4 separate regions of the Homo sapiens genome follow, and all the other regions are linked to region 1. The links come from fine-mapping of genetic effects on gene expression. A gene starts in region 1. Each other region holds a variant in brackets. All regions are shown on one strand. Distances are from middle to middle. Region 1 holds the start of DIP2C (disco interacting protein 2 homolog C). Region 2 overlaps DIP2C (disco interacting protein 2 homolog C). Region 3 overlaps DIP2C (disco interacting protein 2 homolog C). Region 4 overlaps DIP2C (disco interacting protein 2 homolog C).

Region 1 (8,102 bases):
GAACCAGGTTTTTACACTTAGGAACACGTAAGATGGCAAGGTGTTCACCAACCACACGTTCCGCAAGGCTGCTCACAGGTGGAGCAGAATGAGACCGAGGAAGGGGCTGCTCCTCTCCGCTCCTGTGCTGGTCTGCACTTCCAGACAGAGGCACTATGCTGTTTGTGGTGTCAGTCAACACAATGGGACAATTATAGATAAGCCAGCCACCAGACAAAACACACACATAAATGACCAATCCCAGGGAGAGCAGGTGGATAAAGAGGTGTGTAATTCCACAGGTGGGAGAGAATCTTTCTAACCAGGAGATTTGGGAAGGCTGCATGGAAGAAGTGGCGTTTGAACTTGGACTGGACTGGGTGAAATTCCGTGTGCGGCTATGACTCAGGTTGTGGGGAAGGGGAGACGACAGGAGGGAGCACATTAGAAAAACAGACACCACAGGTGGGGACTCTCCATGGACAGCTGGGAATTCTGCAGCTGAACCTCGGAGCTTGAAAGAGACGGGAGGAACAGAAAGCAGGAGAAATGTTTAGTGCAGGGCTCGTGAGACCATTGGTGTCAATTAAGGATTTCTTCAGTTTGCAGGCATAGAATCATGGGTTGTACAGCAAGGGGCCTGTGGTCTGTGCTAAGAGGGACTTTTTAGAAGAGTGATCTGACAGCCGTGGTGGGAAGACTGGAAGGAGGCTCTGAAGGCCTGACATGGGCCATAGCCAGAGGCCTCGACAGGAGCAGGTGGCGCACAAGAGAAATGCTGTGGGTAGAAGTTCTTGAGGGGACTCAAAGTGAAAGGGAGGCTGCTCTCAGAAATAATGTACATGGGGGAAAGTATTGGTAGGTAGGATGAGTTTGATTGTGGACAGCATGAATTTCAAGGAGATGGTAGGAGTTCCAGATAAAGATGATATCTATCAGGCTCCTGGAAATGGCAGTCTAAGACCGAGAGCCCACACTCACACGTGTAATGTGTAGGTGCCCAAAGACCTGCTGAAAGGAACCATCAGCTCAAAATCTGAGTTTGCAATTGATGTGTTTAATGCAAATTACAAGTTTTCTTTGCAACCAACATCAGTCATAGGATCATATGCAAATGATTAAGGCCCATCAAAAAGAATATATATATATATATATATATATATATATATGTATTTTTTTTTTTGAGACTGAATCTCGCTCTGTCACCCAGGCTGGAGTGCAGTGGTGCGATCTCGGTTCACTGTAACCTCCACCTCCCGGGTTCAAGTGATCCTCCTGCCTCAGCCTCCTGAGTAGCTGGGACTACAGGTGTGTGCCACCATGCCCAGCTAATTTTTTGTAGTTTTTAGTAGAGATGGGGTTTCACCATATTGACTAGGCTGGTCTTGAACTCCTGACCTCATGATCCACCTGCCTTGGCCTCCCAAAGTGTTGGGATTACAGGTGTGAGCCACCGTGCCTGGCCCGCGAATATATATTTTTTATTCCGACATTATACCGCCCTAAATGGACTTGACACCATTTATTGCTTGGAATGCACAGTGCATCTTTGCTGTAATGAAATGAACTCAGGGCTTTGCTTTGGAGACTGGGGTTTGAATCCTGGTTCTGCTCCCCTTTCTGTCTCTAAGGACTTTTATCTGTGACGTGTAGGGGCTGTGTGGGATCTTCCCCACGGCCCCTGCATTGCTGGTCGGTCTCTTTATCATGCAAAGGGGAGAGATGATGGTGGGGCCACATGCTTGTGCCACCCGTATCTGTTGCATTGAACGCAGTCTGGAGCGAAGGACGAACCCACGGCGCACACCAGGCGGAGGCACACGGCTCGGCGCAGGAAGCACACGGGTTTGGGGTTCCTGTTTCCCAGCTCATCGTCGAATGTCATTCTCACAATTCCCCACTGAAAGGACCGATCCTTACAGGAAATGCACACACCTCTGGCGGTTGCCACCACTGCTAGATCCATGGGAAGGGCAAAGGTGGGTGAGGCATGGGCTCTGTCCTCCAGGCGCTTACACTCACAAAGAATACAGAGAAGATAAAAAAGGTCAAACGTGATGAGGGCGGGAAGTGGCCGGTGCAGGAAGAGAAAGGAGAGAGATTGTTCTGGACCTGGGGTCAGGGATGGCTGTGGGTGGCAGGGGCAGAGAAGGGGCAGGCTCTCCGGGGTGGAGGCCGGGAGCAGAGGTGCTGCGGGTCAGCCGCGTTGTTTGCAGGAGCCGGAGTGTGGAGGCCGCAAGGCTGCCGTGCAGGTGGGTCCCGGCTGGTGGGGGCTCCGGTCGAAGCGGGGTGGGGGGGTGGTGGGGGGTAGGGGTAGGGGGGTGAGGTGGGGGACCTGTGTTCCTGCGGCCCACTCTGAAAGGGGAGTGAGTGCAGCTGGGCCTCCGGGAGCCAGCGCTGGCCAATGTCCCGTGGAGGACGGGGAGGCGAGGAGGTCTTTAGGAAGCTCTGGGCCTAAGGGAGGGGCCGGGCTGGGAAGAGGGGGTACAAGGATGAAAAGGAGGCCAGGTCGTCGGGGCTTTGTGCAACAGACTGGGGAGGATGTGTGGAGACAGAGGAAGGTGATGATGAAGACAACGGGGGCGGTTCTGAGAAGCAGAACTTCCAGTGACTAAGAGTCACTGGAAGCAGCTGGCTTCATTTAGGGTTTGTGGCGTTTGGGGTGTCTAGGGGCTTCCAGGGAAGTTTGCTCAGTGGACGGTTGGAGATGCGAGGGCCTCCCCAGATGGTCAGGACTAGAGGCACAGACGGGGCTTCAGCCTCGCCGAGGTGGCACTGAGGCTGGGAGCTGATGGCCCCACAAGGAGAAGGACGGTGGGAACCCTGGGGCCTGCAGCCTGTTCCGGGAGGGCTGGAGCCAGGCTTTTCGGGCCCACCTGGCATTTGGAGATTAGGTGACCCAACCTTGTCTTCCCATCCCCTTTTCACAGATGGGGACACTGACCCTCCAGGCAAAGGCTCAGAGTCGCTCAAGGTCATCTGCTGGTCGTTGCATTCGAAACTTCCAGCCTAGCGCTCCGTCTCCGCCTCTTAAAATGTTCATTAACAAAAAACCAGCCCTCCAAGACCCGGGGCACTGCGAGTTTTCGCGCAGACGTCAAGCTGCGGCTCCAGGACGTGATTTTCGCAGGGAGCCGGGTGGACCAGGCTCTGGGGCCGGGCCCGCAGGCTCCGCTGGACGCGCAGAGCCCAGGACAGACAAGACCGCCCCGCCCCGCCCCGCCCCGCGGGCCCCGAGCCCCCAACCCGCCCCCGAGCGCGCCCCCGGGAGCGCGCGCTTCGCCGACGCGGCCGCGCGCCCCCCCGCGCGCTCCCGCTCCTGCGCGTCCTCGCGCCCCGCGCGCGCGCGCCCTGCCCCCGCGGCCCCGTGACGCGCGCGCGCAGAGACGCTCCCGCCGGGCCGGGGCCGAGAGCAGCAGGGCCGGGTCCGGGTCCGCAGCGCCTGCGGGGAGGGGCCGAGCGCGCGCGGGGCGGGCCGGGGACCGTGGGGCGCGGGGGCGCGCGAGGCGGCCGTGGCGGGGCCGCGCTGAGGAGGCGCCGAGGGGAGGGAGGTCCCTGCGCGCCCGCCGCCCGCCTCCCGCGCCCGCGCCGCCGCCTCCTCCTCGGTGCGGTTCCGCCGGGCGCGAGGAGCCGCCGAGACCTCCGCCTGCGAACAAAGAGGAGGCCGTGCGGGGCGCGGCGCCCGCGGAGCATGGCGGACCGCAGCCTGGAGGGCATGGCGCTGCCCCTGGAGGTGCGGGCGCGCCTGGCCGAGCTGGAGCTGGAGCTGTCGGAAGGTAACCGGGCCCCCGCCCCGGGCCGGGCCGCGCTGTCACCGGGGAGGGCCGCGCGCGGAGGGCTGGGGGCGCGGGGCCTGCGGCGGGGCGGGGGCCGGGCCCGGAGGGGGAGGTGCGACCCCAGCCCGGAGCGTGCGCGTCCCCCGGACCCCCAGACCCCGCGCCCTAGGGACGTTTGTGAGGCCGCGATCCCCCGCGCTCTGGGGACGTTTGTGGGGCCGCGATTCCCCGCGCCCTGGGGGTGTCTGTGGGGCCTGGGATCCCCTCGCGCTCTGGGGGTGTTTGTGGGGCCGCGATCCCCCGCGCCCTGGGATGTTTGTGGGGCCGCGATCCCCCCGCGCCCTGGGGGTGTCTGTGGGGCCTGGGCGCCGCGCGGGGACGCAGGATGCAGCGGGCCCGGCGGGATCGGCCTTCCCGTGCGCTCTGCGCTGGAGCCGCGGCGTCCTTGGTGCAGCAGCGCGGTGCGCGCCACCTCCTCGCTGGCGGGTTCGGCCTGGAACGCCCGGCCAGATTTCAATGCGAAACTTGTCGTTGGACCCCGGGTTCGATCTCTGGTGGCTCAGGCCGTGCAGCGGTCCTGGCGCGGCCCGGGGGATCCCACCCCCATTGTTCGCGGGCGCTGCGCGGGGAGGGCTGGGCGGAATCGTCAACCTCCCCCCGGGCCGGGCTCCGGCCTTGCCGTCCTGGTCCTCTCGTAGGAGGGTTTGTGGCAGATCAGCCACCGCGGTCTTATGGAGGGTTGTGTACGCCTCTTATTTGCTCTTCATGGCGGAGATCATGTGCTCAACTGTCATAAGTTTCAGATCGGGCTTTGCCAGGTCTTTTCCCCAAAACCACTGAAGTTCCCAAATCTGAAATGTTTGATGTGCATTTAGCCGTCTCTGGGCTCATCCTGGTCAGGCCATTCCTGTAACGTGGGGTGGGGTGGGGGTGGGCCGGCGCGTCTCACATTTATATTTGGAGCAGTTTAGCATGGTGAACTTTTTTTGGGTAACGGTTTTGTGAGGGCCGGCAGCCAGAAAGTAAACTCATTCGTGCCAATTTTCACCGGCAGGGAGGAGCTGGTGTTGACTTTATGTTTTCCTTTTTAACACTTTCAGGGCAAAGAAGGGAGTGAGCAGGGGCCATGGTGTGCAGCCAACTGCCTTTCCAGACTTCTGGGGACGGGAAATGGTACTGTTTTTCAGTTTCAGATGTGGGGTTCCGCGAGGTGTGTCAGTGTCCTGTAACGTGACACAGTTGGCGGGGGGCAGAGTCTTCCAGGCCTGTGGGCTTGGCTGCTGCCCTCCTGAGGAGCTGAGGATGAGGAGGGCATGGCTAGGAGGCGGGAGCTGCCGTGTGCAGGGTTCGGATGTAAACTGGTAAGTAGATTGTGCAGTGCAGACAGCTCGTTTGGTGGGTAAGGAGTGTATCATTTGCAAAAGGCCCACCCTGGTTATCTGATTGTGTCAGCCTTGGGTAGGTTTCCCGGCTTGCGTCTCGGCCCAGGTGCACCCCTGCCTGCAGCACCCTCCGTGTTCGCTGTCTCAGGACAGGGGCTTCTGTGCTGCCTGCATCACACTGATGTGAAGTGTCAGTGCCCCATCCAGGTCAGCAGAGCGTAGCGCCCCTGAGCTCAGCAGGGCGAGCCCCATCTGAGGGTTCCCCCACCCACTGCTAGCCCAGAAGTTGGACCCACATTTGTTCCCAGAGTCTGGGATGTCTATGGGAATGGGTGTCCTGTGTTGGGCATTGTGGCCTTTTGAGGTGACGACACTTGCCTGTCAGTTGCTCTTGGAGGGTGAGTGATACTGTCTTGCTGCCCAGATGATGGCAAAGCCACTTTCGACGAAGGTGTGCTCAGCCGAATTCCCTGTGAACACCTTGCGTCTGTACAGGTTTTTTAAAAAGGGCTTAATGAGTTAGTTTCTTATTGAGAGACCAGGCAGAGAAAGGGGTGTGTGTGTTTGCATGCAGGAAGCCTAATTATATTTTTCCTTCCACATGAATCTTGCTGAGATCTGAGCTACACATTTAAGAAGAAAGGGTGAGAGGGTTGCTCCGTGGCTCTATTCAGCCTCTCTGCACCCTCCGGCCTGTGCTGGCCCCACTGCCTCATCTGTTTGCTGGATGGTCTTTAACTTTGCTGTGAAGTGTGGGTTTGCCCAGGTTGAGTTTATGGGGGTAGTGCTGTAAGGTCATTTGGAATTCTCTGTCTCATAACCACATAAAACAGTTTTACAGGCTTAAATTAGATGAATCAACTTGTTTTCCAGTATTGCTTAATAGAAATCCAAGAATTGAAGGATCAAAATTCTGTGTTTCTTTATGTTATTGGACTTCAAAAATTCCTCAATGTATCTGCTTTCAGAGTGAAAGCTGAAAACAGCTGTTAATGCTGAATTATTTCCCATCTTCAATCAAAATTCAAGTGGAGAGAATTCTTTAAGTTGGTTGTCATCATTTTATTAAAATATCAGAAAATATTATAGAAACATATGTGGAATTTCCAGTGCTCATTTCCTACAGAGGAGGATGGAAAAAGTTCCGTTTTAAGCACATAACATAGACTGAAGGAAAGAGTAGAGCATTCCCCTGAGGTTCCTGTGTGGGCTGCCAGCCTGCGTGGGTTACGCATTGTGTGGGTTTCTAGACCCTGGTCCAGTTCTGCTGTGCCCGCCTGCTGGGCGCCATTACATGCACTGCTGGTGTCCTGCTTTGCAGGGCTGCAGGGGCACTTCCTGCTGCGGGGCCGAGGGCTCCATCCTTCTTCCACTGCCTGTCCCTGTCCCGTGCCCTGTGCCCCCTCACAGGGGAAGGTGAGGCCAGCTCACACCACAGAGCATGCGGCCAGCAAAACACAAGGGCTCTCTGTGGGGAGAAGTGCTGGGCAGCCCTCTTGTGGGAGCTGATGGCCTCGAATCCATGTGGGGATACATTCAGGTTGTGTGGCCAGGGGGGTCATCTCCTCACATACTTGGGTCTGAGTGTGAGCCAGGGAGGAGGCCATGCAGGTAAGGAGGCCACACGGTCAGGAGGCTGTGTGGGTGGGGAGGTTGTGCGGGTGGGGAGGCTGTGTGGGTGCGGAGGCTGTGCAGGTGGGGAGGCCATGAGGGTGCGGAGGCCCCTCGGGTGAGGAGGCTGTGCAGGTGGGGAGACCACGTGGGGGGAAGGCTGTGCTAGTGGAGAGGCCCCGCAGGTGGAGAGGCCGTGAGGGTGCGGAGGCCCTGTGGCTGAGGAGGCCCTGCAGGTGAGGAGGCCATGAGGGTGGGGAGGCCTCCAGGTGATCTGGAGCTCCATTCTGGGGAGGGTCAAGGAATGAGAGGGCTGTGGCGGCTGCTTTCTCATACTCCTTTCCCCAGAATATTTTCTTCTCCCTTCTCTTCCCTACATTTTTGCCCTTTATAATTGGGTATTCTTTTTTGTGGCTTTAAAGGGCCTAAAAATAATTTCATTAATAACTGATACTTTACATGGAATTGCCAAACAAATTGGAGTGGAAGCAGAAAACTTCCCCATAAAGACAAACTCATGTCTTATTTATTTTTTAATTTTTGAGACGGTCTCACTCTGTCTCCCATGCTGGAGTGCAGTGGTATGAGCTCAACTCACTGCAACCTCCGCCTCCTGAGTTCAAGTGGTTCTCATGCCTCAGCTTCTTGAGTAGCTGGGATTACAGGTGCCCGCCACAATACCTGGCTAATTTTTGTACCTTTGTAGAGATGGGGTTTCATCATGTTGGCTAGGCTGGTCTCGAACTCTTTACCTCAGGTGATCCGCCCGCCTCGACCTCCCAAAGTGCTGGGATTACAGGCATGAGCCACTGTGCCCAGACTCATGTCTTATTATTATTATTATTATTTTAAAAAAGATTGCATTTAGCTGTTGATTCAAATTAGGAAGTAAGTTTCTCTGTTGACTGGTCACTGATCTTTTTGGGCAGTGCATGCTTCAGAAGGAGCTCTTTCCCATTTGTTTAGGAGGTGCTGAATTATTTTGATAGAACTCATAATATAGCCTGCAAAAATTGTTGGTTTTTGGTGGAAGAGAAGTTTTGAAAAATAGGTGCCATGCTTTGTACTCTGTGGCTTTGGTAATTGTCAGCGTGTTCCATGCCCACTGACTCCATCCTCCATGCTCTGCTCTGCTAGTTAATGTAGCCGATTCCTTCAGCGAGCAGTTATGCTCCACAGTAGTGCAGCCTAATGTTTTTTCAGCAGGGGAGAACCTGCTTGCAGAGGGAGGTGAAGGCTCGCGCACGTGCCAGGTCTTCCTGTGTTGGTTGAGGGACCTGTGTGCGTGTGTTTATATATATATATATATATATGTATATATATATATATATATATATATTTTTTTTTTTTTTTT
Region 2 (8,102 bases), 190 kb after region 1:
ACAGTTGAAAGCCTCAGACCCCAGGGCTACACACACTGAGATTTCCCAACTGCCTCTCCCCAGGCCTTGGGCTGATCCCCCTTGCTGCTGCTGTCCCAACCCCTGACATGGCACAGCTTCCCTCTCAGAAGATGTCATGCAGCTTGTCTGCTCTTCATAAATCTTATGCACATTTGGATGCCTTAGCTTCATGCAGAAGTCCTGCAAGCAGGAGAAAATGGAGCCTTGACTCTGGGCTGGTGGTCTCCAGGCATCTCTCTCCAGCTGCATCCCAGCAAGTCAAGGTTATTTAAATGTGTCTTCCGAAGGGTAACGAGCATGGGAAGCATGTCAATGCCATGCAGTGTGAGGTGGTTCTGGGAATAACAGTACCTAGCAGCACATACCAGCACTCCCTTGTGCTGCCAAATGTGACATCGTGTAGATGTCACAACCTCCTTTTGTCACCTGCGTTCCTAATCCCCTGGATTTCTCAGCTTCTTTACTTCTCCAGGAGAAAACCTGCCCCATTGTCCTGTTACCTCTGAAAGGGAGTTTTTACAGCAGGAGATGATGCTGTAGCTGTCAGTGTAGGCACATGCAGCATCCTACTGTTGTCAGGTGCGCCCAGAGGAAATATGGCTGGGCAGGTGGTCCCCATCTCCTGTGGTGTCAGGGGCACCCACAGGAAGCACAGCTGGGCAGGCAGCTCTGTCTCCCTGGTGTCAGGTGCACCCAGAGGAAATATAGCTGGGCAGGTGGTCCCCATCTCCTGTGGCGTCAGGGGCACCCACAGGAAGCACAGCTGGGCAGGTGGCTCCATCTCCCTGGTGTCAGGTGCCCACAGAGGGAATATAGCTGGGCAGGTGGTCCCCATCTCCTGTGGGGTCAGGGGCACCCACAGGAAGCACCGCTGGGCAGGCAGCTCCATCTCCCTGGTGTCAGGTGCACACAGGAATCACAGCTGGGCAGGTTGTTTATTGCCAGGAAGTACAGCTGGGGATCAGTCGAGAGCCTCAGGCAGGGGGTTAATAGATTGGAAAGGTTGAGAACCTTGGCTTGATCACTAACACACAAATTGTGGCAGTAGAAGGTGGAGATGCCCCTGTCCGTTCCTCAAATGTTTTGCTTTCTCCTGTTTCCTGAAGAGCGTCTTGTTGCCTCCTAAGATAGCTCCTGCGTGTATATCTGTATATCCTTGTAGAGGGACTAGAGACACTGCTGGGAAGTTAGTGACTCTGTGTTGATGAGGTGCCGGTTATTAGTCTGTTGCCTTAAAACATCAGCAATTGGAATTGCTCCTCGGAACATGACTGGACCCGTTGCCGTTTTCTGTACAGTTTTCTTTTGGGGAGATGCACACGGTTCCGGGAAGGGTGCTGGGCTGCAGTAATATGGGTGTGGACACAGGTCCCATCAGAATAGTATCCCTTGGAGGGCAGGGTGGGGATCCCGCGGGTTCACGGCGGTTTTGCTGAATGAATGAATGAATGAATGAACGAACCTAGCACTGAGAGTCACATGAGCTCATATGGAAACAGCTTGGAGTGTTGAGAAATGGAGATTGAAGAGCTCACCTCTTCTCTGAGTATGACGGGGTCAGCACCGCTGGAGCTGAGGGTTTGACATGCAATGAAAGCCGTGATGCAGCCATAGTGCGATTTGGTTTATATAGCTATTGCCTTCTGTTATGAAGCTGAAAAGAACCAGGTTAGCGGCCACCTGCTACTCAGGCCTTATGCTTTCTTAGGAAACAGTAAGATGTACTAAATTTTTAGTGTTAAAGTGACAGAACATGGGAACACGGGAAGCGTCTCATCTTGTCACTTGTGACTTGGACACGGAGCCCGTGGGTGCTTCTCTCCATGGTCAGACTTGGTCATGGAGCCGTGGGTGCTTCTCTGCATGGTCAGACTTGGTCACGGAGCCGTGGGTGCTTCTCTGCATGGTCATCTTGCAGCTTCTGAGTCCCATCCTCGCTCTCCCGGCCTAAGGTGGCTGTGCTAGGGATCACACCTGCAGGTCTGACGGCAACATTGTGTGCTGGGTTTCTCTCCCAGGACTTCCAGGTAGTTCGTGCCTGGAATAGTTCCATGGTAGCAGGGTATCAGCGGGTGGCCAGCCTCGGCACGCCTGCATGGATTTGCCGTCTCGGGGGTGGGAGCCCCATGGCAGACGGCTGTTTCCCTTGCGTGCCTCTTCCAGCGTGGCCTTTATTCTCCACAGGGCGTTGGAACTGATTTTTGCACAACAGTGATTTGACAGTGATTGATACGCTGTGGGTCTCCAGCCCAAGGAGATGGGGATAAATACTCTTTATTGCTCTTTCATGCTCTGGTTAGGAAGGCAGTTAGGTTGAAGGCTGCAGTTACCACCTGTGTGTGTCGTGAGATGAAGAGAGAGTATTTCCATGAAATCCTCTCAGGTTACAGAATTAGACCAGTTGTATCTATAACCCAGAAGTTGAAAGCAGTTGACTTTAAGTGTGATCAGGAATCTGGAATTTAATTTCTGAGTAAAATAATTACTGTGGAAATGAGTCTTTGGACTTGGAATTGAAATCAATGGTTGTAAATTTAGGGTAAGTCACAGTAATGGGTTTAGACAAAACGTCTGATGTAGGCGGCAGAGATTTTCAGGTGTATATAGAACCGTGATGAAAACCATAGGGGACAAAGGAGGATTGTCCTGTCCTGAAAGATGTAAAAATGCGGTTACAAATGCAGACCTCAGTGTGCATATAGAGGCCAGCAAACGTTAACTCGGTGTTTGGCACAGCAGAGGGGTAAGAGCCGAAGGAATATTGCTGGATGTTCTTCAAATGACTCTTCCCTCTCAGGGTGGAAGCTGTGGTTAGCACCCACTGGTTTTGGGTCTGTCAGTGACGACTCCTGGATGGTCAGGTGGTGCTCTCAGAGAAAGAGGCTAGGAACACTTCCATGGTTTTCCGCCAGCTTTAAGATACATCTTTGTAGCCCTTGGTTCCATTTGTTTCTCCCTTGTAGTTTTATTTTGCTTGTTAAATTTATGTATAGTAGCACTGCCACTCTCTTTTGTGGTCAGTTCTTTTAGTTTCCGAGTGCTTATTATGTCCATCCACTTCATTGAAGTGTCTGTTCGATCTTTGCCAGTTTTTAAATTGGAACGTTTATTGTCCTGTTTCTTTCCCTTTCATGTAACTTTTAGCTTGTCTGCATCTACAGAAAGTCCTGGCAGGATTTATGTTGGAATCATGATAAGTCCGCAGGTCGGTGTCCTGGCGGGATTTATGTTGGAATCGTGGTAAGTCTGCAGGTAGGCATCCTGGCGGAATTTATGTTGGAATTGTGGTAAGTCCGCAGGTCAGTGTCCTGGCGGGATTTATGTTGGAATCGTGGTAAGTCTGCAGGTAGGCGTCTTGGCGGAATTTATGTTGGAATTGTGGTAAGTCCGCAGGTTAGTGTTCTGGCGGAATTTATGCTGGAATTGTAATAAGTCTGCAGGTCGGTGTCCTGCCAGGATTTATGCTGGAATTGTGGTAAGTCCGCAGGTCAGTGTCCTGGCGGGATTTATGTTGGAGTTGTGGTAAGTCTGTTGGTCAACGTGGAGAGAATTGGTGTCTTGACTGTGTTGCCGCTTCTCCTTGGACTCGTGGCTCAGTTGAGGTAGCTCTTTCCTTTCTTTCTTCAGTGTTTTGTGGTTTTCTTCATACACATCCTCTGTGTGCTTTGTTAAATGTATACCTAAGTGTTTTTTATACAGCTACTGTAAATAGTGTTGTTTTTAACATTTAGGTCCCAAATACTAATTGCCAATACGTAGAGTACACTTTGACTGTGTGCTGTGACTTGGCTGAACTCAGGTATTGGATCTAGGACTGACTTTTGTAGATCCCTTGGGAATTTTTATACGTAGGCTTTTGGTGTGACTTGAGTTTCCTCCTTTCTGTTTTCAGTTTCTTTGATTTGTGCTCATTATGATGTCTTTTTCTGGCTTTGAGTTTAACATAGAAGCTTAGATTATGGACCTGAGACCTTACTTTTTTCGAATATGAGCCTTTCGTCCTATGAGCTTACTTCCCATCATTATTTTGGCTGCATTTCATAGATTTTAATTTTTGTTTCAGTTCACTTGAAAAGTATTTTCCTTTGAACACTCATGGTGGTTTTATTTAGTTCACCCAAATCTCATTTTAGCAAAAGATAAAAATTCATGTAGGTTTAGTTCCTGTGTGTGCCTCATAATATCTTCACATTCTGTGCATTGACCAGTAAATGATTGGGCTTATCAGGGAGATGGTTGCATGGTATATTGGTGTTGTAAAAACTATGATGTGGGAATTTGAATGTTTTTGAGACAGGGTCACTATCACCCATGCTGGAGTATAGTGGTGGAATCATAGCTCAGTGCAACCTCGACCTCCCAGGCTCGAGCAATCCTCCCACCTCAGCCTACTGAGTAACTGAGACTACAGGTGCATGCTGTCATACCCAATTAATTAATTTTGTTTTTTGTAGAAATGGAGTTTCACTATGTTACCCAGGCTGGTCTTAGACTCCTGGGCTCAAGTGATCCTCCCACCTCAGCCTCCCAAAGCACTGGGATTACAGGTGTGAGCCAGCACACCTGGCCAGGAATTGAAGTGCCACGAAGGTGCAGAGGTTTTATGTTTTGTGTTCTGATATTGCCAAATACCTGGCACAGTGCCTGGCCTGTGGTCGGTGTGTAACGCATATTCCTGAATGAATGGATATTGCGGTGCCTATGTGTTGAATT[C/A]AATGTAATTTCACTCAGTTGTGTTTCTCCGTGCCAGTCCTTTTGCCTGTCTGGACTGCTTTGTTCTGCAAGTCACCTTGTAATACGATCATATTCTTCGATCGGTTTTGCACTTTGATTATTGACCTTTTTTTCATTTTAAATGAAGCCTCCCCATTCTTTCTGATCAGATATTCTCATCTTCCCTCTATAATTGGGGTAATATGGTATCAACGCATGTGTTTTCATAAACATATTATTATAAAAATCCTTGAATACATATGTGCTTACATAAACAGGTTTGTTTCATAAAAGTTGGTATTGCAAAGCAGAGATCTTAACAAGTTCTACTCATAATGTATCAATGAGTATAGGACTGCATACATTCTACTTTATTTGCCTTCTAAATAAAGTATATTCTTAATTATTGCCACTTAATAAAGGTTGGGCAAGATCTTCTAGAAAGGATGTTTCCACAAACTAAAGTGTGTACTATCAACATTATTATTTAAATAGCTAGTGAAACCATCAAAATCTTACCACATTTACATGTTGCACCAGGAATCATCTCTGCTTTCCTCCCTGCAACTCAGTATTTTTGACACAATGTGAATTAGTGCACAGGAAGCCTCAGTGTTTCCTGGAGGGTTGCCCGCAGCTCACTGGCCTCAGAGAAAGTCATAATGTGTGTACAAACTTCTCTGGAATAACTTGAGCTTATTACATATAACTTCTGGTAGGTCATTTGCCCCCTCCGCTCTCCAAAAGAAAACCTCAGGCCTCTTAAATTAACTACAAGCCTTTTTGGGACTGAGCCATTATTTTACACAGCAAGGTTGTCAGAAAAAAAATAGCTTTAAGGATGATAGAAAGATCTTAGCATTTTCTGAAGCCTGAAACCTATGGGGGGAGACATCGCAGTCATTCCTGTCCTGATGGGACCTGGCCTGTCTTGTTTTGTTATCCATTGCTTACCCAGATGAGGTGATTTGTTTAAGAAAATCATTGGAGTCATTGAATTAAGCATCCCTGTATTTCCAGCTTTTAAAAGATTTTAAGTTAAAATACAACTTTTTAAATCTTTTATCCAGCGAACATTTGGTGATATTGTGTCTGTGTTTCGTGTGCACTTTGTTTTGTGTAGGATTTCTGTTTTATGTACTCTGTCCATTGCATGGCACACAATAGGTATTAAATATTTGGGGGATGAATGAGGAAATAAAGTTCAGGATAATTTCTATGGCATTTGGAAATTCTCGTGTAAAACCTAGGCACGTACAGTGTTCCCAAACAAGGGCCAAGTGAAAGCTGCAGTATTTGTTTGATTAATTACTAAGGAGCAGTCACTTTCCCTTCATGTATCCTGGACTTGTGGGGTCACAGGACCTACTGAAATAGTACTGTATAACGTCTGCTGGAGCAGCCAAGGGCTGGTGGCTGCAGGTCTCAGGAAGAGAACACAGAAGTAGCCATGGGCCCTGCTCCTGAGACAGGCCAGGGGTTGGCTCTGAACCCACCTTTGCCCCAGACGCTGATGAGCACAGAGGTGGTTGTCAGGGAAGCTGGCACATTGCCTGCAGGGGTCCCTGGCAGGTACAGATGTAGGGGAGGGCCCAGCTGAACCCACATCTGCTGTGAAGGCTTGCAGGAGTCTGCGCTTGCTGAGGGGGCCCTAGTTTTATTCCCTGGGTCTGAACTTGCTCTCAGTGGCCCTGTCTGCCTTCAAAATCCACCCGAGCAAGAGCTGGGCTTAGGGTTGGGGCCCCTTCCCCAGTCCCATTGTGGCAGGGTCAGGTTACTGGAGATAAGTCCTAGTCAGCACCTAGGCTATTAACAAGTTCGAGGGGCTGGCATATCCATGCTTGCTCTATGATAAAGTCAACAATTTGGCAGATGGTAACTAGACATTTCAGAGTTCCTTTAAAATGGTGTTAGTAAAGCCCATGATACGGTTTGGCTCTGTATCCCCACCCAAATCTCATCTCGAATTGTAATTTCCATAACCCCCACATGCCAAGGGCAAAACCTGGGGAGGTGATTGGATCCTGGGGGTGGATTCCCCTATGCTGTCCTCGCGATTGGGAGATCTCACGAGATCTGTTTTTTTGGTAACTGTGTTCCCTTCCTGCGACCTGCAGCCACCAGCCCTTGGCTGCTCTGTCAGATATTATATGGTACTATTTCAGTAGGTCCTGTCCTCCCCCTCGCACACCTCCCTCTCACCTGCCGCCATGTAAGATAGGCCTTTGCTTCCCCTTCGCCTTCTGCCATGATCATAAGTTTCCTGAGGTCTCCCCAGCCATGTGTAACTGTGAGTCAATCAAACTGCTTTCCTTTATAAATTAGAGAGTCTTGGGCAGTTCTTTATAGCAGCGTGAAAACAGACTGATGCAGCCCAGCGGTCCACAGAGGGGGAGCCCAGCCGTCCACACAGGGAGAAGGTGACAGTGCAAATGCTGCTGTCAGGGCTGCGCTGCCAACGAGCAGCCAGTCAGCACCACATGTGGGAAACCTCAGCTGTGTAGCCATTGAGGGGTCAGGGCTGCAATGCTGACAAGGAGTCAGTCAGCATCGCGTGTGGTGAACCTCAGCTGTGTGACCATCGTGGGGTTCAGCCATACTGTTCTCATTGAGCAGCCCATTTTCAAAGTCTGAAAAAGGATAACAAAATAATAGGACTGAAGTTTTCATAGTCAGTGCCTTGCATGAAAACTGGTGGTTGAGAATTCCTCAAGGAAAGCAGAAGTTGTTCTCCGAGTCAGCAGTGCTGTGCGGTGCAGAGCAGCGTTGGTGAGAAATGCCGGCATGCAGATAAGTAACACCATAGAAAATCCACATTCACAGCTCTCAGAAAGCTTGTTTTATCTATAATTAGCTGGCAGGACTCAACAAATGCGCATTGCCTCCTTAATTCGCCCACACAGCAGTAGCTTTTTTCAGGCCTGGGGTGTTACTGGGAAACGGTGAGTGGGGTCCTGGCTCATCCTGAGGTGTGCTGGAGCTGAGAGGAGGTTTTGTACTTGGGGATGGAGGTTGGGGCACGCTTGAGCCCAGAGTCTTGAGGTGAGCTGACTTCTTCATTGAAAAATTATATTCTCTGGGAAGGAATGGGCAGAAACTTCAGGTAAATGAAATGGAAGTCAGTCATCCCTTGACAGAGGTGCATCTCTGACGAGCCCCCTAAGAGAGAGCCCCCTGGGCAGCAGGGAGGAAGAAGCATGACTGCGCTGTGTTCTACACGTCCTGGTGGGGTCTGTCAGCAGGACCCCTGAGGGGAGGCAAGCATCTCCACTGGCGCCTGCTTCTGTGGCCCGGACTGCTGATTGTGAGTGGAATTAGTTCACTCAGGTGTGGAGATTCAAGGGGCTCTGAGGACTTCCTTCAGCTGA
Region 3 (8,102 bases), 150 kb after region 1:
ATTCTGTGTAGACGGCGTCTTCTCTGTGTCCTCATGGGTTTCTCTTATGTGTGTGCAGCACTGAGGACTCTGTGTGTCTAAATTCTCTATTATAAGAACACCAGTCATGGCTGGGCGTGGTGGCTCACACCTGTAATCCCAGCATTTTGGGAGGCCGAGGTGGGTGGATCACCTGAGGTCAGGAGTTACAGATCAGCAGTGAAACCTCATCTCTACTAAAACTACAAAAATTACCTGGGCGTTGTGGCAGGTGCCTGTAGTCCCAGCTGCCCAGGAGGCTGAGGCAGGAGAATTGCTTGAACCTGGGAGGCGGAGGTTGCAGTGAGCTGAGGTCATGCCACTACACTCCAGCCTGGACAGAGAGAGTGAAACTCAAAAAAAAAAAAAAAAAAAAAAAGGGAAAACACCAGTCATGTTGGATCAGGGCCTACTCTTAAGATCTTATGGGACCTAAATTGTCACGTTAAAGGCCCTGTGACATTTTGAGTTTCTAGGGGTTGTGGCTTTAACATGGGAATCTTGCGGGGACACAGTTCAGCTCATTACACCCTTAGGGGAGAATCCAGGTGAAACTGTTACGTTGAATTAAGCAATGGTTCCTTAGATGAGATGTCTAAAGCATAACAAGCAACTGAAGGGGAAAAGACAGTATCAAAATTAAAAATGTTCATTTCAGAGGTTACTATTAAAGTAAAAAGACACAACCCACAGAACAAGACACATTATCCCAATAAGGGCCTGATATCAAGAATATCTTTAAAAACTTACTCAGCAATGAAAAGAAAATCCAATTTAAAAATGGACAAAGGATTTGAATAGACATTCTCCAAAGAAAGATACATAAATGCCTTAAAAAGCACATGAGATATTTAACAGAATTAGTCATCTTAGAAATGAAAATGAAAACCACCGTGAGATACCACTTCACAACCACTGGGATGGGTAAAACCCCAGTACTGGACGGTGACATGTTGGTGAAGATGGGAAAATTGGAATCTGTATATATTGCTAGTGGGAGGGGAAGGAAAATGGTACAGTTGCTTTGGAAAAGTCTGGCAGTTCCTCAGAAAAGTTAAGCATAAAATCACTGTACGACCCAGCAATTTCACTCCCAGGCATATGCCCAAGAAAACTGAAAACGTTTTTACAAAAAAATCTTATGCAAGAATCTTCATAGCAGCATTATTCGTAACAGTGAGTAGAAACAGCCCAGATGTCTGTCAACAGATGAGTGGATAAAGAAAATTTGCACACAATGGAGTATCACTCAGCCGTAAAAAGGAACAAAAGAACATGTGCTCCAATGAGCCTTGAATGTGAAAGATGCCAGCACCAAAGGTCACACCAAAGGTCAAGCACTGTGCAATTCCACTCACCTTGAACGGGAAAGATGCCGGCACCAAAGGTCACACCAAAGGTCACGCACTGTGCGATTCCACTCACCTTGAATGTGAAAGATGGCAGTACCAAAGGTCATGCTAAAGGTCACGCACTGTACGATACCAGTCACCTTGAACGTGAAAGATGCTGGCACCAAAGGTCACGTCAAAGGTCACGCACTATGTGCCCACTCACGACAGGCGTCCAGAGTGGGCAAATCCAGAGAAACAGAAGTCGGCTGGCGATTGCCAGGGGCTGGCGGAAGGAAGCAGCAGGTGCTGACTCTTAATGGATTCAAGGTTTCTTTTGCGGGTGGTGAAAAAGTCCCAGAATTAAATACTAGTGGTGATTGTTGTGCAGCTTTGAGAATATGCTAAAAAGACTGAATTGTACCCTTTAATATGGGGGATTTTATGGTTTGTAAATGCTTTTCAATGTAAAAAGAAACTAAAGAACTTATTTGGTGTTGATATTTAGAATGCGAAAGAGACTGTATCCAAAACATGTTACTATGTAACTCATGTCCCCAGAGAGTTAAACTTCATTTTCTGAGGATCTTAAAGGATGTGTTTGAGCCTAGGAGACACAACGATCCATACTATATGTTACAGCCTATCTTACTGATTTCTATCTCACGTAACAACCGTATTCAGGGAAAACGGACATGTAAACGTGAGCTGAATGCTCTGCAGAAGCACTTTCCTCTTACCCAGATGGTCTTTAGTGGTGCAGTAAGAGATGTGGTCACGGCAACGTCAGTTTAATTTCCATGGCAACAGGAATTTGGCACATCTGATGAGTTAGATCTCCCTGCACAGCTCCTAACAGGGTTACCCATTTCTGTGTGGTGTCTGTGTACGTTCTCGCTACTGAAATCAGTGATGGCACCTGCACAGACACTTGCCCGGAAATGCGCACAAAGCTGGTGAAGGCAGAGGACAGGCGAGTGGGAAGCATGGTTCAGCCCTTGCAAAGGAGACGGTTATTCCTAACGCAGAAGATTCAGGAACACGATCCTTGCGAAGACTGGTGATGTCCATGGATCTCACTGCTGTCCAGTTGTATCTGTGCAGCGAGTTACCAAAGCTGCCAGAGCCGCATGTGTTGGTATCGGTGTCATCATCATCACTCAATGTTTCTGACTTTTGGTATTGGTGTCATCGTCATCACTCAATGTTTGACTTTTCCTGGTGCTGAGGATGACTGCATGTGGCAGAAGCAAAGTGCTGGGCTTAGAAAAGAACTAGAATCTGATGATCTGTGGTATATAGAGAGGCAGGGTCAGAACCCCCCACTCCCCAATCCCGTAAGAACTGGGATCTGATGATCTGTGGTATAGAGAAGGGGGGAGGGTCAGAACCCCCCACTCCCCAATCTGATAAGAACTGGGATCTGGTGACCTGTGGTATAGAGAGGGACAAGGTCAGAACCCCCCACTCCCCAATCCGATAAGAACTGGGATCTGATGACCTGTGGTATAGAGAGGGACAGGGTCAGAACCCCCCACTTCCCAATCTGATAAGAACTGGGATCTGATGATCTGTGGTATAGAGAGGGGCAGGGTTAGAACCCTCCATTCCCCAATCCGATTGTTGAAGAAATAGTTGGCTTGGGAGGGTTTTTACTCTGAAGGTTGAAGCTGTGCATTTCTGGAGCCTGGGCTGTCGGCCGTAGTGGCTGGGGAATGCTGGGGCTGTGGTCGTCTGGCCGCTGGCAGTCCTGCTGGTGGGTCCTGCCTCTTTGACACCGTTCCTTTCTGAAGCTTGTTTTCCCCAGTGTTGGAAGTAGCAGCACTGGAGGAATGGCCTTCTTCCTACAGCAAAGCTCTGCCAGGAGAGGAGGAGAAGACATAGAGCATCTGTTGAGGGACATGACGTTCTGGGCACTGCACCATGCTTTCTGCTTCTCAGCAGTGCCTCCTGGTTGATGTTACCGTCACCTGGCATCGCCCAGGAGGTAACTCGCAGAGGCAGGCAGGGAGC[A/C]GAAGGAGCTCAGGAGGGAGTGAGCCGTCACAGGGTGGGGGAGGTTCAGGAGCCAGCAGGCAAGTGGGATGTGGCCTCAAGGTGTTGCTGGGTTGGTGAGGGGTCTTCTGGGACTTTTCTGAGAGTGCAGTCAGTTGTAGGGGTGGGTGCCGGCTCCCGCAGATAGAAGAGCCAAGTGTGCAGGAGACCAACGTGTGCACTGGGAGTCCCCAGGGGCGTGTCCTGGCACGCGGCCCAGAGGCCCCTGACAAGGCTCAGTGCACCAGGCACACAGCGGATTGTTGGTGCTTGACCCGACGAGAAGGTGAGGAAGTGAGGTGAGGGGGGCCGAGAGACAGGTGCAGGGATGCACTAGACAGGGTGCAGTCAGGTGGAGGGTCATGCTGTGGGGTCTAGGAGAGACAGGTGTGGTCAGGTGAAGGGTCACGCTGTGGGGTCCAGGAGAGATGGGTGTGGTCAGTGTGGAGGGTCATGCTGTGGGATCCAGGAGAGATGGGGGTGGTCAGGTGGAGGGTCACTCTTGGGGTTCCAGGAGAGACGGGTGTGGTCGGGTGGAGGGTCACGCTGTGGGGTCCAGGAGAGATGGGTGTGGTCATGTGGAGGGTCACGCTGTGGGATCCAGGAGAGATGGGGGTGTTCAGGTGGAGGGTCACACTGTGGGGTCGAGGAGAGATGGGTGTGGTCAGTGTGGAGGGTCATGCTGTGGGATCCAGGAGAGATATGGGGGTGGAGGGTCACTCGGGGGGGTCCAGGAGAGACGGGTGTGGTCGGGTGGAGGGTCACGATGTGGGGTGCAGGAGAGATGGGTGTGGTCAGGTGGAAGGTCAAGCTGTGGTGTCTGGGAAATGTGTTTTTGCTTTTGGCTGAGCAGCTGGACCTGAGCATGTCTGTGCTTTGACATTTAACCTGTGCACTGTCCTCGGCAGGGTGTGTGTGTCTGTGACAGAGGACACCTCAGCCAGAGTGGATGTCGGCGGTGGTGGCCGGACTCAGGGTCCATGAATGTTGCGTGGTAGAACGTGTTTGGTACATTCTCAGCTCCTGCCCAGGTGCCTCCCAAGCATCGGGTGTTGTGGCTCCCCAGCATCGGGTGTTGTGGCTCCCCAGCATCGGGTGTTGTGGCTCCCCAGCATCGGGTGTTGTGGCTCCCCAGCATCGGGTGTTGTGGCTCCCCAGCATCGGGTGTTGTGGCTCCCCAGCATCGGGTGTTGTGGCTCCCCACATCCTTCCCCATCTGCGTGTAGCACGACCACCACCTTCCTACCATGTGTTTGTCCTATCACGGCTGCTGTGTCTAATGCATGCTTTGCTTTCCAGCTACTTTACTATAATCAAAACCCTTGAAAGACTTTACCTGTGTTTCAGAGATGACAGGGTATTAGTCTTTCATGATTGCTCTGAGGATTTCCAAAAGCAAATGCACCTTACAGGATGCAAGAAATGGCAGACAGTAATTAGAGATTACTTTTCTCAGTTAGTCTTTTTATTGTGGTAAAATTACATAGCACTGTGACCATTTTTAAGTGTACGATTTGGTGGCATTAAGTGCGTTCACACTGTCATGCCACGATCACCGCCATATTCTTGGTCTCCCCAAGCTTGAAACTTGGTCTACCAAACACTAGCTTTCCTCCTACCCCAGCTCTGGTAAGCACTACAGATTGCTTATAGAATAGGCTTTTTCAGTGAGAGAAGGGGCAAGGAGAAGAGGACTCAAGACTGTCTTGAGATTTGAGGAAGTGTTTTAGGTTTTGCTCTCTGGTTCCCAGTGTAAAGGAACTATTGAAGATGTGGGAAGGTGGAAGCTCTGTGTGATCTCAGGAAGTGCTGGGCCGGGCAGCTTTCCCCCTGTGACGGGGGCACTTGCCCTCAAACACACCTGAGATAATTGTGTGAGGATGGTGCTGCGTTGTGACAGCTCTGAACTTGGTCTCCTTGAAAGTTTCCAAGTACATAAGCTTTGGCGGTTACCGTCTAGTGTCTGCGGGAGACCTAGAATTTGAACATTGTTGACTTTAAAACACGCACATCATTTTTATAACACTCTACCTGTTCTCATAAATAGGAAATATGCTGTGTCCTTTTTATTTTGCTTTAATATTCTGTGTTGCAGTAGCAGTAGTTGCAGTGGATGCTGCTTCTGATTCATGGTTATTGCCAAACACAAGTTTCTAGAAACCATGTGAAAAGTGAAGGGGAAAGTGGCTTTCTGCAAATGGCTTTTTTGATCATCTTGTTTTTTTCTGGAATATCTGTGGTGTCAAACATTTTCATATTTAGGGGTTTGTAATGTGTTTTATACTGGTTAGCGTTGAAATCCCATGTTTTTGCATATTGTAGGTCTGCTTTATCCTGTTATTCTATGATATAGCTGTTTTTGAAAACTGTTATTTCACTTTAAAAACCAAAGCAGCTTACAGTATGAGTGTGATTCCTTTAAGAATTTAATTGTAAAATTGATTTGTGTTCAATAAACTTACTGGAATGACTAGTTAGATCAGTGGACAAAAAGATAAGAACATGTCAAGTCTCTGGACCAGGAACGACTTCCAAATAATACACGTGACACACAGTAATTTCTTAACAAAAGATTAGATTTAGTACATAACTTTTTAAAACCTCTATATTTTCTATTATAGCCATTCCACAGTGCCCATGGGGGTGGGTTGCAGGACTGCCTATGGATACCAAGGTCTGTGGGCACTCAGGTCCCTGGAATAAAATGGCATAGTGTTTGCATATGACATATGCACATCCTCCTGTAGACTTTCAGTCATGTCAAGATTGCTCATAACACCTATACCATGTACTTGCCATGTGAATAGTTGTTAAACTATATTGTTTAATGAATAATAAAGTCTGAATGCTTAGTACAAACACATTAAAAAAATATTCTTGATCTATAGTTGGTTGAATCCACAGGCCTGGAACCCCAGGATAGAGTACAAACTCTAGAAGCAAAATAAATATTTAAGAATCGAATACAGCAAAGATTAAAGGATTAATATGAGCACTCTATGAAAGGTTTGCTTAATTGATGAGAAATGCCATAGGAATTCAGTAAACCCACAGAATGATGTGAACAGACAACTCGCAACTGAGGTCATATAGCAGATTCACAAAACGCACGGAATGACGTGAACAGACAACTGAGCTCGTAGAACAGATTCACAAAACTCATGGAATGACGTGAACAGACAACTCGCAACTGAGGTCATACAGCAGATTCACAGAACACACGGAATGACATGAACAGACAACTCACAACTGAGGTTCATATAGCAGATTCATGAACACAGAAAAAGTTCTTAGTAGTCATGTACATTTAAATTATGTGCTGCTTTTTGCTAGTGAGCACATTTTTCAAAGTCATATTACCCAGTGCTTACAATTTTTTTGATATAATTTAGAATTGTGATAGTATTAATAGGTACAGTTATCTTTTGTTAAAAAGAAACGTTTTCAATAAGAACCTTAGAATGTTTATATCCCTTCCTGGGTAATTTGAGGTTCTTAGACTTATTTGTGAGGTTCTTAAGTTTGGCTAGAGAACAACAACAAAAACCCAAAACACTGAAACCCAGAGGCTGACAACATTGACTTAGATCTGAGAGCACAGGCAGGCCCCATCATTTCCACGTTGAGACCCTGAACCATCCCTCTCTCACCCTAGCCCCTGTACGGTCCGGACTGGAAGAGTCCAGGATTGTGGCACCTGTTTATGATGAAAATCTTCAGGAGACTGGGCACAATGGCTCATGCCTCATGCCTATAGTTCTAGGGCTTTGGAAGGCCAAGGCTGAAGGATACCTTGAGGCCAGGAGTTTGAGACCAGGCTAGGCAACCAGATAGCAAGATCCCATCTCTACAAAAAAGAACTAGCCGAGTGTGGTGGTGCACACCTGTAGTCCTAGCTACTTGGGAGTGGGAGGTGGAAGGATCTCTGAAGCCCAGAGTTTTAGGCTGGTGTGAGCTATCATTGTGCCACTGCATGCCAGCCTGGGTGACAGAGCAAGACCCTGTCCCAAAGAAAACTCCTCGGGAAGCATTTGTTATCCACAGAGGATACAGAGTCTAGAAACAAAAAGCTTAAAAATTTAAAATACATTCACAGCCAGGCACGGTGGCTCGTGGCTGTTATCCCAGCACTTTTGGGAGGCCGAGGCAGCAGATCGCTTGAGGCCAGGAGTTCAAGACCAGATTGGCCAACATGGAGAAACCCTGTCTCTACCAAAAATACAAAAAATAGCCAGGCATGGTGGCGCGTGCCTGTAATCCAGGCTGCTTGGGAGGCTGAGGCAGGAGAATCGCCTGAACTTGGGAGGTGGAGGCTGCAGTGAGCCGAGATCGCCACTGCACTCCAGCCTGCACTACAGAGCGAGACTCGGTCTCGGGGGAAAAAAAAAAATTCGCAGACGAAAGATAACTGCTCGATATTTAGGGAGACCCCAAGAGCTTTGCTTATTGCCAGAGCAATGGGTTTGCACCACCTAGAGTTGACTTACCAGCCTGTGTCTCGTGTCTTCCCTCATCCCTCTCCTGTTGTCATGTTAATGGGGGAAACACAAGCCTGGCTGAAACATGGGTGATACCCGTGTCCTGGGTGCCCTGGGCACAAGTGTGCGGGGGAGGGGGACGGGGGGCAGGATGCTGGGTGCCCTGGGGACAAATGTGTGGGGGGCAGATGCTGGAGCCAGGTCGTAGTTACTTGTGTTGTCTGAGCTTCCTTGGGCATTAGAG
Region 4 (8,102 bases), 210 kb after region 1:
TGGCAGCTGCAGGATCTGTCGTTGACTGAGTTAACGAGAGCCCCGGCCACCAGGCTTGGCTTCCTGTGCCAGCGGGTGGGGATGAGATGGCAGGGGTCTAACCCTGGACCCCATCCGGATAAATACAGAAGGGGCCAGAAACAGGCGTGTGTTTAACAAATGAGTTTTAGTGACTTACATGCTGTGGGCTTTTGTTCGAGAGCAGGGGAGGAACTGAAGTTGTTTGATGTGCAGTGCTTGCTTTTAAAATTCTAACAATGAGGCACACAGAAGATACTGTGATAACTGTGTCTTCTTGGGCACCGTTGAATGATAATGCTCTATCCACGGAGACCATACTGAACTTCATTTTCCTTCTCTTGCAGGTGACATCACACAAAAAGGATATGAAAAGAAGAGGTCAAAGTTAATTGGAGCCTACCTTCCGCAGCCTCCGAGTAGGTAACCCCCATGAGTAGCATGAGTCCTCTCATTTCCCGCATTCACTATGTGCCAGAGAAACATCTGGAGGCAGACGCTCCCTTGCTTCCCAGTCGGCAGGAGGAGGCGTCTGGCGTTCACCCTCCAGGCATTCAGTTCCTTTGAGTGATCACACGTGCTGTGTGAATATACAAGGCACAGAGGATTTTTCTATAAGTGTGCCTAATAGGTGTTTTCTCTATAAGTAGAGATCGGTATTGGGTTGGTTACTTTAAAATGCTATAATCGTAAAAATATGAGTGCATTAGTGATTTCAACATATTTGGTTTAGAGAGCTATTTATTACTATTGATTCTGGTTTAATCCAAGGCTTCTGTTGGTGGCACAGGCCAAATCTAGACAGTGCTGTGATACCCCGCCCAGGACTTGGCAATCGTGAAAGCTGGTTGTGTGTTGAGATGTGGTTGCAAACATCCATGATGATTCTTGAGAAGGGCAGTCGGTTTCCCGCCAGCGTTTCTACGTGTGCAGATTGGCAGCTTTCCTGCACTTGAGCTGGGTTCTGTAAATGTCAGGAAAAAGAATCTCATATTAGATGGGGATTCTAGCACCTCAGTTCCCAGCTGGCAAGCTCAATTCAGCCCAAGAGCGACCTTGAAAATTTGGTAGGCTTGAGGAATGGCTTAAAGCTAACACAAGCAGTTTCTTCCTCAAACATAAAGGCTAGCAACATAAATTTTAAAGGTGGAAATTGAACTTGCATAGTTCTTACCATTGAAAGAAGATTTTAGAAGGTTTAAGGATGCACATGTCCACACCTGCACAAACCCCGATTCTGTTCTTCCCGAGGCCCGTCCGGGTCCTGTTGACTCAGTAAGGAAAGTTTCCTGAGGCTCAGGCTGCAGGAAACGGTGTGGAGATTCTGCTATTGGTAGTTTTGTTTTCATTTCGTGTTTTTCTTGCCTTGATTTTTGAGACAGTGATGTAACAGTGAACATGTTTCTGTGGACCTTGCTTAGCAGAGGCTTAAGTCAGGGATAGACGCCGAGGAACCCGAGAGAAGGGGAGCAGAGGGCTGGGCTGGAATGCTGGGGCGAGAGGCTTCAGGGCAGTGCTGGGTAGATCCCCTGATGGCCTGCGCCCCCTCCCTCATTCTCTTCTCGCAGAGCCATGGGGCGACAGCTGCCCCCGCCCTGTCCCTGTGAGTTCCCCTCTGCAGGTGCCCTCATGTGCTGCAGAAGGTGGGGTCTGACTGTAGGCCACGGACGCTGTTGGTTTTAACTTTCTTGCCTTGCCAAACAAAAGTGAAACAGAAGCGGTTCCTCGCTTGCCAGGACGGTTCTCCAGCGCACCGTGCCTCCCGCGGTGGCCCTGGCCTTAGCCGGGCGCAGAGGGCGGTCGTGCCCTGTGGTCCCCTTGGTGGTCTGTGTGCTGTCCTGCATGGGGTCGGCAGCTCTGCTCAGCGCTGTAACAAATTTAAAAAAAACTAAAGTTTGAATTAATTAGTTTTTTTTCAACTTGTTACAGCAGCGAATGGAGCTGCCGTGGTTCGGTGTAGACTGCAGCACAGTGAAGGAGCGCCGAGGAGAACATTCCGCTCTGCCCACATCGGGGTGTGCGACGTCCGAGAAGCTGCGGCTCGGGAGCGGGTGGCCAGCACCGCAGGGAACCGGCCTCTGTTTTACTTTCGTTTCGGTGAGCGCTGCTTTGCTGAGAGCCAGCCCCACAGCAGGGTACACATTAGAAAAGGGCCACCCGCCGAGTGCCATCCCGTACAGACGTGTAGGGTGTGGCCTTGGGGGCCTGAGGGTCCCATTCTCCAGTGAGCCAGGTCGCTCCACAGGCCCAGAGCTCGCCAGAGACCAGGTCTGTCCCTGTGAATCAGGGCCCAGTTCTGCGTTTCCTATTGAAGTAGAACGTTGCTTTTACAATTCCCCTTTCTCAGTTGGGCACCACTTAGAAAACACTTAAGAAGAATGCGTGACAAATTATAAAACTTCTTAAAGCCACTGGTATTCTACAGACTTTCATCTTATAGCCAAAGACCCAATTAAAGGATGAGCTGATGGGTCTTGGCCTCTGAGATCTGCTAGAAGGAGTGATTTTGAGATTTCCATCTCCAAAGAGCAAAGTAAGGGTTTTTGAAATAGAAAAAGCAGTTAATCATAGAGTATGTTCTTAGAGGTAAGGATTCTGTTCAAAGGTAAGAATTACTTTGGCGGACAGTATTTTGAATACAGGAATTTCATGATGCAAAAAGGGAGTTCAGTGCATTTTCCACCAGAATGAAGAAAATCATATGCAGGTGGAAGTTTTAGGTTCGTGTTCAGGGTTACACTTCAAAATGTGTTTTAAAATCACATACAAGGCCGGGGGTGGTGGCTCACGCCTGTGATCCCAGCACTTGGGGAGGCTGAGGAAGGGGATTGCTTAGGTCCAGGTGTTTCAGACCAGCCTGGGCAACAAAGGGAGTCCCCGTCTCTACAAAAGAAAAAATTAGGCATGATGGTGGGTGCCTGTGATCCCAGCTATATGGGAGGCTGAAGCAGGAGGATTGCTTGAATCCAAGAAGTCAAGGCTGCAGTGAGCTATGATTGTGGCACTGTGTTCCAGCCTGGGGGACAGAGCGAGACCCTGTCTCAAAAAAAAAAAATTGGTAAAATGAAGTCATAGAGGCAAACTTTATTATTACAGTTGGCCACTGGGGTCTCAGAAGAGGACACCCCGCCTCGCCTCCTGGCCTCCACTGCGTTCCTCCTCTCTGGGCCCTCTCAGGAGCCCTCTCTGGGCTGATTCCCTCGCACCCTCTCAGGAGCAAGGGGCAGAGCTGATGAGAAGGCGACAGGGCTGGGTTTTAGCCACGAGGTCCATTTCAGAATTTATCTGCCGGAAACGTGAGGAAAACAGGAGAAGGACGGCCCGGGCCGCCTGATTGAGGCCCAGACACCAGACTCAGGATGGGGGGACTCCGGACAGCGGTGCTAGGGCCCCAGCGAGGCTGTTTCCCTGCCGACCTTCATTTGGAGACGTTGCTTGTGACACGCAAGTGTGCACCATGTGCAGCTGTCCTGGGAAGCAGCAAGGAACGCAGACGTTTCCAAAGCCGAGGCTGCTTTCTTGGTTGGCCCCATGGGACGTGACTTCCTTTGTGCAGGATCTTCGTGGAAAACATCTTTCTTTCTTGTTCCCCTGTGCTGCTGCGCACTTGCCTGTAAGGGGTTTGTGTTCTGATTAACTTCCACCCTTTTTTCCTAACATTTACATTCCTATT[C/T]CTCCAGAAACTATTCTAAAAGTGTTTCTAGGATGTTGTTTGGGATGCAGAATTACGAGCTACAATGGGGGTTCTGTTCCCTAGGCCAGCCAGGCACGTCCCAGCTGCTCAGGAGGGCAGCGTCTGTCGGGGCCTCCAGTCGGGATTCAGAAGTGAGCGTTGGTGCTGAGCACCTGCCTAAATCTAGTTGAGGAAAAGACTGTCCGGAGCCAGGAAGAAATGTGAGTTATACATGCAGTGAAAGAAGGGTCAGAGAGGGTGCCTGGAAGATCATCTTCAGGGAGAAGACGCTGCTTAGGGAAGCTGCCCACTTCGCTCTCACCCTTCTGCGGTTCAAACCCATCCCTCATCAGTCTCTAAGCCCAGTCAAAGTTGTAAACCTAGGAAATAAAATCCACTGCCTGGCAGCCTCTTCAGAGAGATCTTAATAACAGTGTCGACTTGGATAACAAGGCCTCACTGCTTGTATGACACAGGCCGTGGAGATTTAGAGAGTAAAATTTCAGTGTGGCTATAAATGGTGGAACCTTCTTTGCTCAGATACAGCTCCTCTTTCTCACAGCAACTTCTTATGTGTTTGTCTGTGAAATGTTTCTTGGTATTGAGTGATTTATGAAGATCTGGTATTCCTCTCCAAGCCCAGCTTGCTTTTCCTTCAATAGCCGGACAGCTTGATGCCCAGGTGCAAGTTACAAGGACTCTGTAAGGGGGTTTGTCTGTGCGGCACAGCCTCTCTCCATGAGGTCACGTGAGCGGCCTCTCCAGGGAAGAGGTATCCGTGGTCAGTGTGAGTTAAGCCCCACACTTTTTCCATCATGGGGTCGCGTGAGCAGCCTCTCCAGGAAGAGGCCTCCCATGGTCAGTGTGAGTTAAGCTCTACACTGTCTGCACCGGAGGCCTCTGGCCTGCAGGCTTGCACTGTGCTGTCCAACTGTTGAGTCAAATCACAAATACGGACTTGTCTCAGTTCCTCCCTGCTACCAGGGCTCCCGATGGCCACGCCGCTGTCCCTCCCGACAGCCATGCCGCTGCATCCACATGAGGAACTCTGCTCAGGCCGTGCACTTGGCCGTGTCCAGGTGGCATTTAAAGCTCAGTTTGGATGCTCTGTCCTGAGGGATTTCTCCCCTGATCCTTCAGTCAGACCATCCGGATTCCCATCTCCATGTCGTCCTGTCTCTGAAATACCACTGTCATAGTTGGGTGGTGGTTACTAAACGCTAAGTCTCCACCCCAACCCCCAGCAGCAGTATGTAAATCACCTGAGGCCCCGGCTGCCTGCTCACGGAAAGTGGACATTGGGCAGGTATTTGCTGTATGGATGTGTGGGTGCGGCACGGAGGGGCTGAGTCTGCCTGTGGGGGTGGGCCGGGGCAGCCCTCACTTCCCCCCGCCCCACTGAGTGACCGTCCCTACCGTGGTACGAGGATGGATGTGCAGTGTCCCTGAGGGCAGACGCCACCGTGTCCGCATGATGCTCAGATCCACGTGAAGCCCTGAACAGGCACCGGAGACCTTCCACTGCCTCAGGTGTCTATCTGGGCTGCAGTTTTATTTTTATTCTTGATTTGGGTAAATTTAAATGGCAGATGGTAACATGTAAGGGCTAATTAATGACTGAAATGACAGAGGGTAACATGTACCTCAGCACCATCCAATCAGTGGAATTTTATTATCTTTTCAGAACTTGGCTCCCATCCCAGTGTTTGATCCTGTGACTGGATCACATGTTCTCATGAGAACAGCTGCTCTGGCCTGAGTGCTGTTGCTTGCAGTGGCTGCCTTGCCCTGTCGCCACGGAGAGGGCTTCCTCTGAGGTCCCGTTGCAGATTCTCCCACTGGGCTTTGACAGTTGTGAGGGAGGAGGTCCCTGCAGTTGGCATTTGTGAATTTTGCACTTTGGTTACATACGGAATGAGAAAGTTTCTTAAGTACGTAAATGCCATTTTGTTCTGTCGTCTTTAGAAGACGTGGCTGGCTGGCCCTGGCCTGTTCACCTGGGCTGGCCGTTGGTTGTTCTGATTCCTCGTGTCAGCAGAGGCTGTGCTTTCCCGGGGCAGGTGCGCAGTGGGTCCGTATTCTTGTTGTGCCATGAGAGTTACAGTCTGGTGACCCCAAGGCAGCGCTTCCTAGACGTGCTGGGGAGGGACCGCCTCCTCACCTGGGCTGGAGGGTCCCGGGGACCTGTCCCGGGCAGGTTGCCTCCACTTAGGGTCTCAGGCCATGTGGCAGCTCACAGGGTAAGGGTGTTTTAAACTTAAATCCCAGAGGAGGGGAAACGTGGGTGTCCAGATGGCATTGCCTGTGACATAGCGTGAATCTTTCTAGACCGCGTTGCTGTAGTGACAGGTGAATCACCTGTGTTCCAGATCAGCCGTGCTCCCGTCGGCACTTCACAGGGTACCACGCTTAGCTGCCGGAGACGTGTTCTGCCACAGGGAGCTGTCAGTTTGATCCCGTACGTTTATTTCCTGGTCTTTTCAGCAACATTTAATGAATCGCATTCCTCGTCTTAGGCGCCAGCCGCTATGGAGGGAGTGCAGCTGAGCCTACGCCATGCGGTGTGTCTCCAGTGGGGAGGGTAGCACCCACTTTGGAACTGCTCACGTGGGTTTTGTGAAAAATCCGAGGTGTAAGCAAAGTGCAGAAACGTGAAGGCCCGGTCCTGATGGTGAGATTGGCATCTCATCCAAGGAGCGTGGACTGGAGCTCGGGCTGGTAGATGAGACCGTCATCCAGTGAGCATGGACCAGGGCTCAGGCTGGCGGGTGAGACTCATCCAGTGAGCGTGGACTGGGGCTCAGGCTGGTGGATGAGTCTTATCCAGTGAGCATGGACCGGAGCTCAGGCTGGTGGATGAGACCCTCATCCAGTGAGCATGGACCGGAGCTCAGGCTGGTGGATGAGTCTTATCCAGTGAGCATGGACCCCGGAGCTCAGGCTGGTGGATGAGACCCTCATCCAGTGAGCATGGACCGGAGCTCAGGCTGGTGGATGAGACCCTCATCCAGTGAGCATGGACCGGGGCTCAGGCTGGCGGGTGAGACTCATCCAGTGAGTATGGACCGGGGCTCAGGCTGGCGGGTGAGACTCATCCAGTGAGCGTGGACCGGAGCTCAGGCTGGCGGATGACACTCATCCAGTGAGCGTGAACCGGGTCTCAGGCTGCCGGATGAGAACCCTCATCCAGTGAGCGTCGACTGGAGCTCAGGCTGGCGGGTGAGACTCATCCAGTGAGCATGGACCGGGGCTCAGGCTGGCGGGTGAGACTCATCCAGTGAGCATGGACCGGAGCTCAGGCTGGCGGATGACACTCATCCAGTGAGCGTGAACCGGCTCTCAGGCTGCCGGATGAGAACCCTCATCCAGTGAGCGTCGACTGGAGCTCAGGCTGGCGGATGAGATGCAGACGTCAGACTCTCCCGTCCCTGGATCACTGACAATTTCCAGTGTATGAGTCCCTAATCAAGTTAAAACATTATAATAGGAAAAGGGTTGCTAAGCAAATATATACTGATGTGTGGCAAAGATTTGGGCTCATGAAAGATGGATAGAAAGGAGGACAGTGTGGGGACGGGCGCATTGGCTCATGCCTATAATTCCAGCACTTTGGGAGGCTGAGGCGGACAAATCATGAGGTCAAGAGTTCAAGATCAGCCTGGCTAACATGTTGAAACCCCATCTCTACTAAAAAATATTAAAAATTAGCCAGGCATCGTGATGGGTGCCTGTAATTCCAGCTCCTCGGGACGCTGAGGTAGAAGAATCACTTGAACCTGGGAGGCAGATGTTGCAGTGAGTGGAGATTGCGCCATTGCTCTCCAGCCTGGCAACAGAACAAGACTCCATCTTAAAAAAAAAAAAAAAAAAAAAAAAGCAGTGTGAGAATTCATGGGGTTAGGGCAGGTGCTTAGAATGGAATTTCAGTCTTACCATTGTATGATGTTCCCATCCCAGTGAATACAAGGAAAATTATTAAATTTCTTACCAGTGTTTACAACAGTTGTCCTGTTTGCTTTCTGGCAAAGTCCTTGATTGCACTTATTTTAGAAAGTTTTACGATGTGAACAAGAGCATGTAATTGAGACCTGGAGAGAATGGGACTGGATTTAGAAACTGCTCTGGGACAGACCTGAAAATACAGAAAAATCCCCGGCAGTTTCACTAAGGGCCCAGAGCAGGCTTCTCCTGCAGGACACTCCTGTGGAGGCCTCTGTGGAGCCCAGAGCGCTTGCCCCTGGGTGCTGGGGAAGGAGGGCAGGAGAGCCTCTTGGCCCTCCTCTCCTCCTCCCTCCCTACCCCTCTCTTCCTCCCCCTATCTTCTCTGGGAGCTAAGGTGAGCCATAGAGACGTTGCTATCTGCACCCCCAGCACGCCCGGACACGCGATGAGTGAGAATAAGATGGGAATT

The links.
Region 2: its variant is fine-mapped to the expression of DIP2C in blood mononuclear cells (TOPMed, PIP above 0.99).
Region 3: its variant is fine-mapped to the expression of DIP2C in cerebellum (GTEx, PIP above 0.99). The same link has a PIP of 0.9 or more in cerebellar hemisphere.
Region 4: its variant is fine-mapped to the expression of DIP2C in whole blood (INTERVAL, PIP 0.93).

What each region holds. Positions count from the first base shown.
Region 1 is chr10:685,147-693,248 of GRCh38, reverse strand. DIP2C (disco interacting protein 2 homolog C) reads left to right here and starts at 3,581. Exons shown (of 37, transcript NM_014974.3): 1 at 3,581-3,755. The coding sequence starts at 3,671. RefSeq lists an enhancer at 2,271-3,206.
Region 2 is chr10:498,351-506,452 of GRCh38, reverse strand. All of the region lies in intron 1 of DIP2C (disco interacting protein 2 homolog C), which reads left to right. Among named protein-coding and RNA genes, the nearest start is that of DIP2C-AS2, 130 kb to the left of the region's middle. RefSeq lists an enhancer at 5,828-6,774. The variant C/A (reference allele first, on the strand shown) is at 4,735.
Region 3 is chr10:537,462-545,563 of GRCh38, reverse strand. All of the region lies in intron 1 of DIP2C (disco interacting protein 2 homolog C), which reads left to right. Among named protein-coding and RNA genes, the nearest start is that of DIP2C-AS2, 87 kb to the left of the region's middle. RefSeq lists an enhancer at 3,324-3,824. The variant A/C (reference allele first, on the strand shown) is at 3,363.
Region 4 is chr10:478,794-486,895 of GRCh38, reverse strand. It overlaps DIP2C (disco interacting protein 2 homolog C), which reads left to right. Exons shown (of 37, transcript NM_014974.3): 2 at 366-437. Among named protein-coding and RNA genes, the nearest start is that of DIP2C-AS2, 150 kb to the left of the region's middle. The variant C/T (reference allele first, on the strand shown) is at 3,692.